2 separate regions of the Homo sapiens genome follow, and region 2 is reported to be linked to region 1. Evidence: microRNA targets listed by miRTarBase, many of them from high-throughput screens and not tested one by one. Region 1 holds a microRNA gene; the other region holds the end of a gene's coding sequence.

Evidence for each region. The annotated mature microRNA hsa-miR-1182 reads GAGGGUCUUGGGAGGGAUGUGAC and lies in region 1 at 2,918-2,940, opposite strand. An mRNA with a match to its seed (bases 2 to 7 or 8) in the 3' UTR can be bound and repressed. Matches are read on the target gene's strand: a 7mer-m8 pairs with bases 2 to 8, a 7mer-A1 pairs with bases 2 to 7 and ends in A, and an 8mer does both.
Region 2: miRTarBase lists TEX22 as a target of hsa-miR-1182. The part of its 3' UTR that is shown has no 7-base or 8-base seed match.

What each region holds. Positions count from the first base shown.
Region 1 is chr1:231,016,924-231,021,583 of GRCh38, forward strand. MIR1182 (microRNA 1182) reads right to left here and starts at 3,001; the gene lies at 2,905-3,001. FAM89A (family with sequence similarity 89 member A) reads right to left here. Exons shown (of 2, transcript NM_198552.3): 2 at 2,035-3,203. The coding sequence ends at 2,940. It also overlaps the pseudogene LOC644006.
Region 2 is chr14:105,411,364-105,414,363 of GRCh38, forward strand. TEX22 (testis expressed 22) reads left to right here. Exons shown (of 4, transcript NM_001195082.2): 3 at 5-133; 4 at 297-2,496. The coding sequence ends at 470. Among named protein-coding and RNA genes, the nearest start is that of MTA1-DT, 6.9 kb to the right of the region's middle. RefSeq lists a silencer at 38-167 and enhancers at 239-742, 743-1,245.

The DNA of each region.
Region 1 (4,660 bases):
GAAATTATATTACAAAACATTTTATAGTTTTGCAAATATTAAATTCCTTGCCAAGCTGTATTCACATTATACTTGGAGTAACAGTTTCGGGTTATTTACATGTTTTAAGTGGAGTACCAAGAAATGTGGTGGTTATTGTATACACGTGCATCTTCATCATAGGAACGAGGAATGTGCTGGCCCTTCCCAGCAGCAAGGGAGAGGCCCCTGGCCTGCCTCGACTCATTCCACTTCTAACTCTGACAGACTATCCAGCAATAGTGAGATGAAAGCCCCAAAACTCAAAAGCACAATGAATCACTGCAGTTCCAGAACAGCCTAGAGGCAGCAACCCAGGGAAGGGAGCCATTCTGAACCATGAGTTCCCCCAAGCCTGAACTTGTCCTTCGAGCTTCACTCCCTTGCTATTGTTGACCCATTCTGAAAGGACTGGGGTCTCCTAATCATGCCCTGGGGCCCACTCTTCCGCAGTGCTGAAGGAGATCCTGGTAGCCCTCTATGGAGAGGTGGTCTCCAAGTGCTAGGCACTGGGCCGACAGAAAGCTGCTTCCCAAGCTTTGTGAAAGGAATCATCAGAGGCATCTTAAGAGGCAGGGGCTGATTCAGCAAGGCTGGGGTGCTTTGAGATTGTCCATGTCTGATCTACGCACCACGCTTTGAACACTATGTAGCTGAAGGACTGTATCTCAACATTTCTACACATTAGAATCACCTGGGAGGCTTCCTCGATCCATAGAGGCGCCCACGCCTCACTCCTACTTAAATCCAGACTAGGCATGCAGGGTGCTGGAGCCCAGGCATCAGTATTTTTCTTTTTTTTCTTTTTTTTGAGATGGAGTCTCACTCTGTCACCAGGCTAGAGTGCGGTGGCACGATCTCGGCTCACTGCAACTTCTGCCTCCTGGGTTCAAGTGATTCTCCTGCCTCAGCCTCCCGAGTAGCTGGAACTACAGGCACGCACCACCATGTCTGGCTAATTTTTGTATTTTTAGTAGAGACGGGGTTTCACAATGTTGGCCAGGATGGTCTCAATCCCCTGACCTTGTGATGTGCCTGCCTTGACCTCCCAAAGTGCTGGAATTACAGGCGTGGGCCACCGCGCCCAGCCCTAGGCATCAGTATTTTTCTAAACATTCCCCAGGTGATTCTTAAAGTGGCCAGGTTCAAGAACAGCTGATCTAAAGGTTCAACTCACTGTAAGCATGGAACAGCCTCAAAGGAACTTCCTGCAAGTGATCCAGACTTAACTCTGTTGGTCTTAACTGCTTTTAATTTTCTTGTCCCCACTGACCAGTTATGTGCTGAAGGCAATTAATTGCCACCTCTCATTTTAACTCCTTTCAACAGAGGAAATAAGCAGGCGTATTCCTCCTTCTCTGTATCTCACCCCAGTTCCTGACCCAGGGTGTACTTGACAGGTTAACACTTGGCGATGCATGACATTGAGGTGCCTTCCTCTCCCTAACCTGAAGGACGCTCTAGTGAGCAATTATCACACCAAAAGAAAGATGAAGGAGTCTGCAGCATTCAAAGACAGAAGAGCAGCCAGGCATGGTGGCTCACACTTGTAATCCCAGCACTTTGGGAGGCCGAGGCGGGTGGATCACGAGGTCAGGAGTTCAAGACCAGCTAGGACAACACAGTGAAACCCCATCTCCATTAAAAATACAAAAATCAGCTGGGCGTGGTGGCAGGCGCCTGTAATCCCAGCTACTCGGAAGGCTGAGGTGGGAGAATTGCTTAAACCCAGAGAGGCAGAGGTTGCAGGGAGCCAAGATCGTGCCACTGCACTCCAGCCTAGGCAGCAGAGCTAGACTCCGTCTCAAAGAAAAAAAAGAGCACTGAGAACCAGCTGTAAATGGTGATCTACTCTTGCTAAAACGATTCCTTAAGCTCAACAGAGTCAATCTTGTTTCAAATGCATTTAGTGGCAGAAAAACAAACTAATTTTCTTTCATTATTTGACTGGACTCAATGCATTCAAGTCATGAAAGTTGATGATTCCAAATTCAGAATAAAATAACACATGACACAGATAGTTTAGCATTTTATCCTCATTTTTAACCTACAAAGTGTAATGTTCTCATAAAGTATTTTAATAAATATATTAAGGCTTAAGGTAATTACTGGTTTGAGTGGCGGGTGGTTTGCTTTCTAGCACACTAGTTTACATTCGGAATCTTAAAAATGAAAACATTTGCCATCTTACAGTGAGTGATACATCACATTGGCTTGCCCCAGTTTTTGTGTTCTTTTTTTTTTTTTCACTATTCAACATGTCTTCGTATTATCTTCCTTCCTCTCGTATCTGATAGACAAAGAATGATATAAAATTTTGGTTGAAAAAAGCCAGTTGATTGGGATGACTAGAAATGTTAACTTTTTCAGTAAAAAGCTTTCACCGAATCACTGGGCAGTTAGTAATGCAGCTTACAAATAAATAAAGCTGAGGCGAGAGGTTTAAACAGCAAGAAAAGCTGCAGAGCATATTGAGGAAGGGAAGCAGTGAAATGGTGGTTTTAATACATCCCAAACTGGAAGCAAGAACCCTAACACAAAGAGGATTGGAATACTCTACCATCTGTAAGGAAGTAGCTAGCTACAAGCCACCTCACACAAAACACCCACTAAGGCCTTTCACCGAGATCCTCTTGTTATATTCTCATTATGAATCCCCAGCAGGTGCACCTCAATAAATAGGTGTGGAGGATACTGCTGAGGACCTCTAGGTCACCTAAGCAGAAACTGCTGCCATCAAAGCAGACTGCCACCATGCATCCGCGGAGAACTCCCTGCCTACAAATGAAACTGGTAGCGCTCATCCCCTGTGCCCGAGGACCGTCCACAACGGAGGTGCTTTCTTGCAAGAGAAGCAGCAAATGATGACAGCGTGTCCAGTAGGAAGGGCTTCCCAACAGTCACATCCCTCCCAAGACCCTCTAGATGGACTCCAGAATCCAGTCGCTGCTGGAGAGGGAGGAGACAGGCAGTGACAAGTCCCGAGGAGGGCCTCGGTCCCTCCTGTCGTGCAGGGAGTTCTGCTCCTGGAAATATTCCTCCTCTTCATCGAAGAAGCCGTTCTCCAGAGCGTAAGTGCAGTCTGGGCTGGAGGCTGCCTGGCATGCCCCCTTGTACTCCTGAATCGACTCGTAGAGGCTGTACAGTTGGCAGAGCAAGGACATGTCCAGCTGGCGGAGACCAACCTTGAGGGAAGGGGTGGGGAGGTAAAAAACGAGAAGTCAGCACTTGAGTTTAATTTCAGTGGAACACTCAGCCGGCGATCTGCGCCTGCCAGCACATTCCTTCCACACGGCGCATGATTCAGAGCATCACTCGGATGCTTTGGATTTCCAGTTTTGAGAACACCTTAATTGTGTTATGCCCATACCTCAGACGTTACTCATTGAGTCCAGTGAGGATCGCATCTGTGGGGCAACCAGGGCAGCCTGCAGAATTTACCCTGGCGCTCCTGAGTGTGCCTGATGAAGCAACAGCACTGCATATTCTAGTGGCCCCACCTGCTTTCACTTTGGACGCCAAGAAACGAGTGTGTCACTTCCTCTCCCAATCAGACTCGGAGAAGACCCACATTGGCCTTCCCTGCTACTGCGTTAGGATCTGACTGATGCAGTCATTCTCAACTCCCAGGGGCAACAGAATGCCCTTTGCCAGTGACAGCAGCTGGCCAACGTGACATCCCCCTGGAGCACCCACCTCTGTGCAGTTCAGTGGTCAGAGGTTACACTGCCTCCCTCTCCTCCAGGCAGGGTCAGTCTTATCCCAGATGGTTCTGGGATCCCTCCCCAGAGTAACTGACTGAATATGAGGAAGCCCTGGAAGATGAAGGGCTCTACAGTTCCTCCTGAAAACTAGCCCCACAAAAACAAGCAGCAAAAGAACACAGAACATTTATAAAAGTCATATACTTGTTTATCTTCCAGTTCCTCCCTCCCCCACCACCCATCCCAGAGAAAAGAGCACGGTCACAGTCAGAACAGGAAATGCATCGTTTACACCAATACCAAAGAGAGAACAGTTAAGCCTCTTGGAAATGCAGCATAGACCAGCATCGGTGCCTCTTAACCTTTAAAGTGCATGAGAACCACCCGGGGATCTTGTTCAACAAGCAGACTCTGATTCAGTGGGTCTGGGGCCACTGGATGGCTGTGCTTCCACCAAGCCCCTATGGTGATTCCGTGCTATGCTGCTGTTCCACAGACCCTGCTCTGAATGGCAACGGGAAGAAACTCAAGAAGACACCAGGGGACCTGCCTTCGGCTTCTTGGCCCCTGAGCAAGGTATTTATCACCTTCATCTCCGTGCCTTGGTTGATGGCAAAATGGAACAATAATTTCTCTTATGGAGCTATTAGGGCAATTCAATATCAATCCACTCAATAAACAGGATTCTAATGCCTCCCGGGCTAAAGCACTAAAGATGCATGGGTACAGCTCTCCTGGGCGGCTGGAGAAGGAGCTTCTTCTCTGGAGTGCGCCGGTGGCAGCGCCTGCAGACCTAACTAGCTCCAGGACTTTAAAATACTGGAAATCTGTCCCGATCCAAATTCTTTTGCAAGCCAGATGATTAACCAGAGGGCACGAAAGGTTGAGAACATTCGACTTCCCTGCAAACCTTGGTATAGATCACTTCCTTTTCTGTT
Region 2 (3,000 bases), not on the chromosome of region 1:
CCAGGTGTGCGAGCCGCCGGAACGCAGGCGCCCGGGCCGCCGCTGGAGCGTCAGCATCGACGAGCGCCGGCGGCTGGCCACGCTGGGCGGCCGGGAGAGGCCGGGCGCCGCCGGGACCCAGCTGCACTGCAGGGTGCGCGGGGGGCGGGTCCTCCCCGCCCCGTCCCCGCCCCGCCCCGCCCCTCCGCCTCGCCTCCCTCGACTCAGTCCCACTGGGCCCTTTACCCCGGCGCTCCCGGGCCCCGCCGTTGTCCCCTTCCCGCCCCTCGAGGCTCCCTGACCACCCTCGCCCGCAGGACGTCGTGCAGATGGTAGCCCAGCTGGTGTCGGAGGACGTGGACAAGGACGTGCTCCTTCCCCACCCGCTGAGGTCCACCGAGTCCACCAACGCCTTCCAGGCCTTCCTGGCGCGCAGTGCGCCTTTCTGGCATAATGCGACTTTCGAGGCCTCGAGGTCACCCCCTTCCTAAGAGCCCCATTCAGCCCATTGTCTGTCTTCCAGTGCCTTTCCTTGGGGGCCCACGGTGGGGGCAGCCTCTGCGCCTTCTTTGTGCCCCACCAGGGGGTCACCACCCACCCATGTTAGGAAAACAGGCCAGGCAGGACCTGGCTCCGGACAGCCTGCAGCTGCTGAGGCCTTGGAGACCGGGCTAGGGGCTATGGGAGGCCATCTAGGGGAGGGGAACACTGCCCCGGGTCAGTCTGAGAGGGCCCTGGCAAGGCCTGGGTAGCAGGAGCTTGCCCTCGGGGCCGCTGGGAGGAGGCCTGGGGTACCTGGGCCTGCCTGAGGTGCACTGGTGTCCTGGGAAGCCCCAGTGGCAGGCGCTGCCTGGAGACTCAGCTCCTTGGCTGGCCTGGTCTGGGGAACTGGGTATCTGCCTGCACCAGGCTGTGAGATGGGCCAGGCAGAGTTCTCCAGGGGGCGGGGTCTCACATTGGGTCCTGCCTCTGAAGACCCAGAAGGGCACACGGGACCCCAGGGGTGCTGTGGTGGGGAGCAGCAAGCCCAGGGACCCAATGCAGTGCCCAGCACAGAGGGAGGCTGTCTGGAGGCAGAGATGCCTCCTGGCCTCTGGACAGCGATGCTGGTGGTGGACGAGGGCCAAGAGGGTATCCTGCGCAGGGGGTCTGAGCAACTGTGAGGAGCTGGCTGCCGCAGGGGCCTGTGGGACATGGTCCACTGGGTGACTGCCTCGTTTCCAGGCTGCAGGGCCCTCGGAAGGGTGCTGAGCCGGGGTAACGTGTCCCAGCTGCATTTTGGGGACACTAAGTTGCAGGGGGACTGGATTGGGAGGCGGGGCAGGAGAGCTGTGAGCATGGGTTCCCAGCCCGGGGTGGGTGGGGGTGGGGAAAGGGCCCTGAACTCTGTGACTGACTGTTAGGGGCCTGACTGGGCTTCTGTGGAGGTGGCTAGGTGGAGGAGGCTTTGGGGCAAGCGGAGGTGATCACTCCTGGGCTCCAGGTGAGGGCAGGAGCTGGACCTGTGCGGTGGCCTGGACCACCAGATACACTACATGCTGGCTGTGCTGCCCACCTGGCCTGTAACCCTCCCCTTCCCGCTGCTGAGAAGCCACCTGACTGCACTGCCAGCCACCTGCTGCCCTGACACAGGATCCCTGGCCCGAGTTGAATCCTCTGCACCTGCCTGTCTCCCCTTCTTACTGTAAGACTCAGTGAAGTTCCCTCCTCCTTCAGGAAGCCTTCCAAGATTACACAGCCAGGTGCTCCCCTTCTCTCCCAAGTCCTCTGAATGTCATTTGGTGCACCCTAGGGATCCTCTGCATTTCTCAGGAGCCCTAGGGTAGGTGGATGGAGGGCAGATCCTCCAGGGGCTAGGGCAGGTGTCCTTAAGGGTGTGGGGAGTTTTGGGCAGGGCACTGTCCTTAAGGGTGTGGGGAGTTTTGGGTCATGACCCACCCCCTCTGAGGCCCCTGATGATGATGTGGGGAATGGGATCCTATGGGCCCAGCTGCATGCCAGGCAGGCATCCCCAGGTGTAAACAGGGCAGAGCGGAGCTGACAGGTAAGCAGTTGCCATGGGGGTGATGAGCTGGGCAGTCCTCTGTTGCTGAGTGGCTTTAAAGAACCACTCGTTGTTCTGTGACTTGGGGGTTGGCTGGGCTCATCCTGCCAGCTCTCCTGCTCTCGTTTGAGTGTCTCCTGAGGCTGCAGTCAGAGCGTGGTGGTCCAGGATGCTGGTGATGCTGGGATGGTTGCCCTCTCTGCTCCATGAGGTCTCCCTACAGAGCACCTCCCCCATGGTGGCAGCAGAGACAAAACCCTGGCCTCCTTCAGGCTGAGGCCCAGAGCCAGTCTCCTGGTGGGTAAGGTGGCCACAGGGCCAGCTGGCAGCAGGGTATTGGCACTGAGAGGCACAGGCCTCTCCAACAGAGGTGGTGCCGGGACAGGGGCAGTGCCTGGAGACCGCTTAGGTTGTCACAACTGGGATTTGTGTACTAGTTTTCTGTAGCTGCCATAAAAATTGCCACAAATTCAGTAGGTTTGGTTTCTTTTTCTTTTTTCTTTTTTTGGTGGTTGGGGCGGAGCGGGGGGCAGGCTTGCTATGTTGCCCAGGCTGGTCTTGAACTATTGGACTCAAGTGATCCCCCGACTTTGGCCTCCTGGGTAGCTGGGACTGCAGGTGCATCCCACCACACCCGGCCTTTATTTTTTTTTTTGTAAGTTTTTATAGAGAAACAGTCTTGGTATGTTGCTCAGGCTGGTCTTGAACTCCTTGACCCAAGCAATCCTCTTGCCTCGGCCTCCTGAGTAGCTGGGGTTACATGAGTGTTCCACTGGTGCCTGGCTTTGAGTGTTTTAAAACAACACAAATGTATTAGCTAAGTTTTGTAGAAGTTCAAAATGGGTATCTTTGGGCTCAGAATGAGGGGTTGGCAGAGTTCTGTTCCTTCTGGAGGTGCCAGGGGAGACCCTGTTTCCCTTTTTCTAGCCTCAAGAAGCCACCTGCATTCCTTGGCTGGTAGTTGTGGCCTCCTTCGG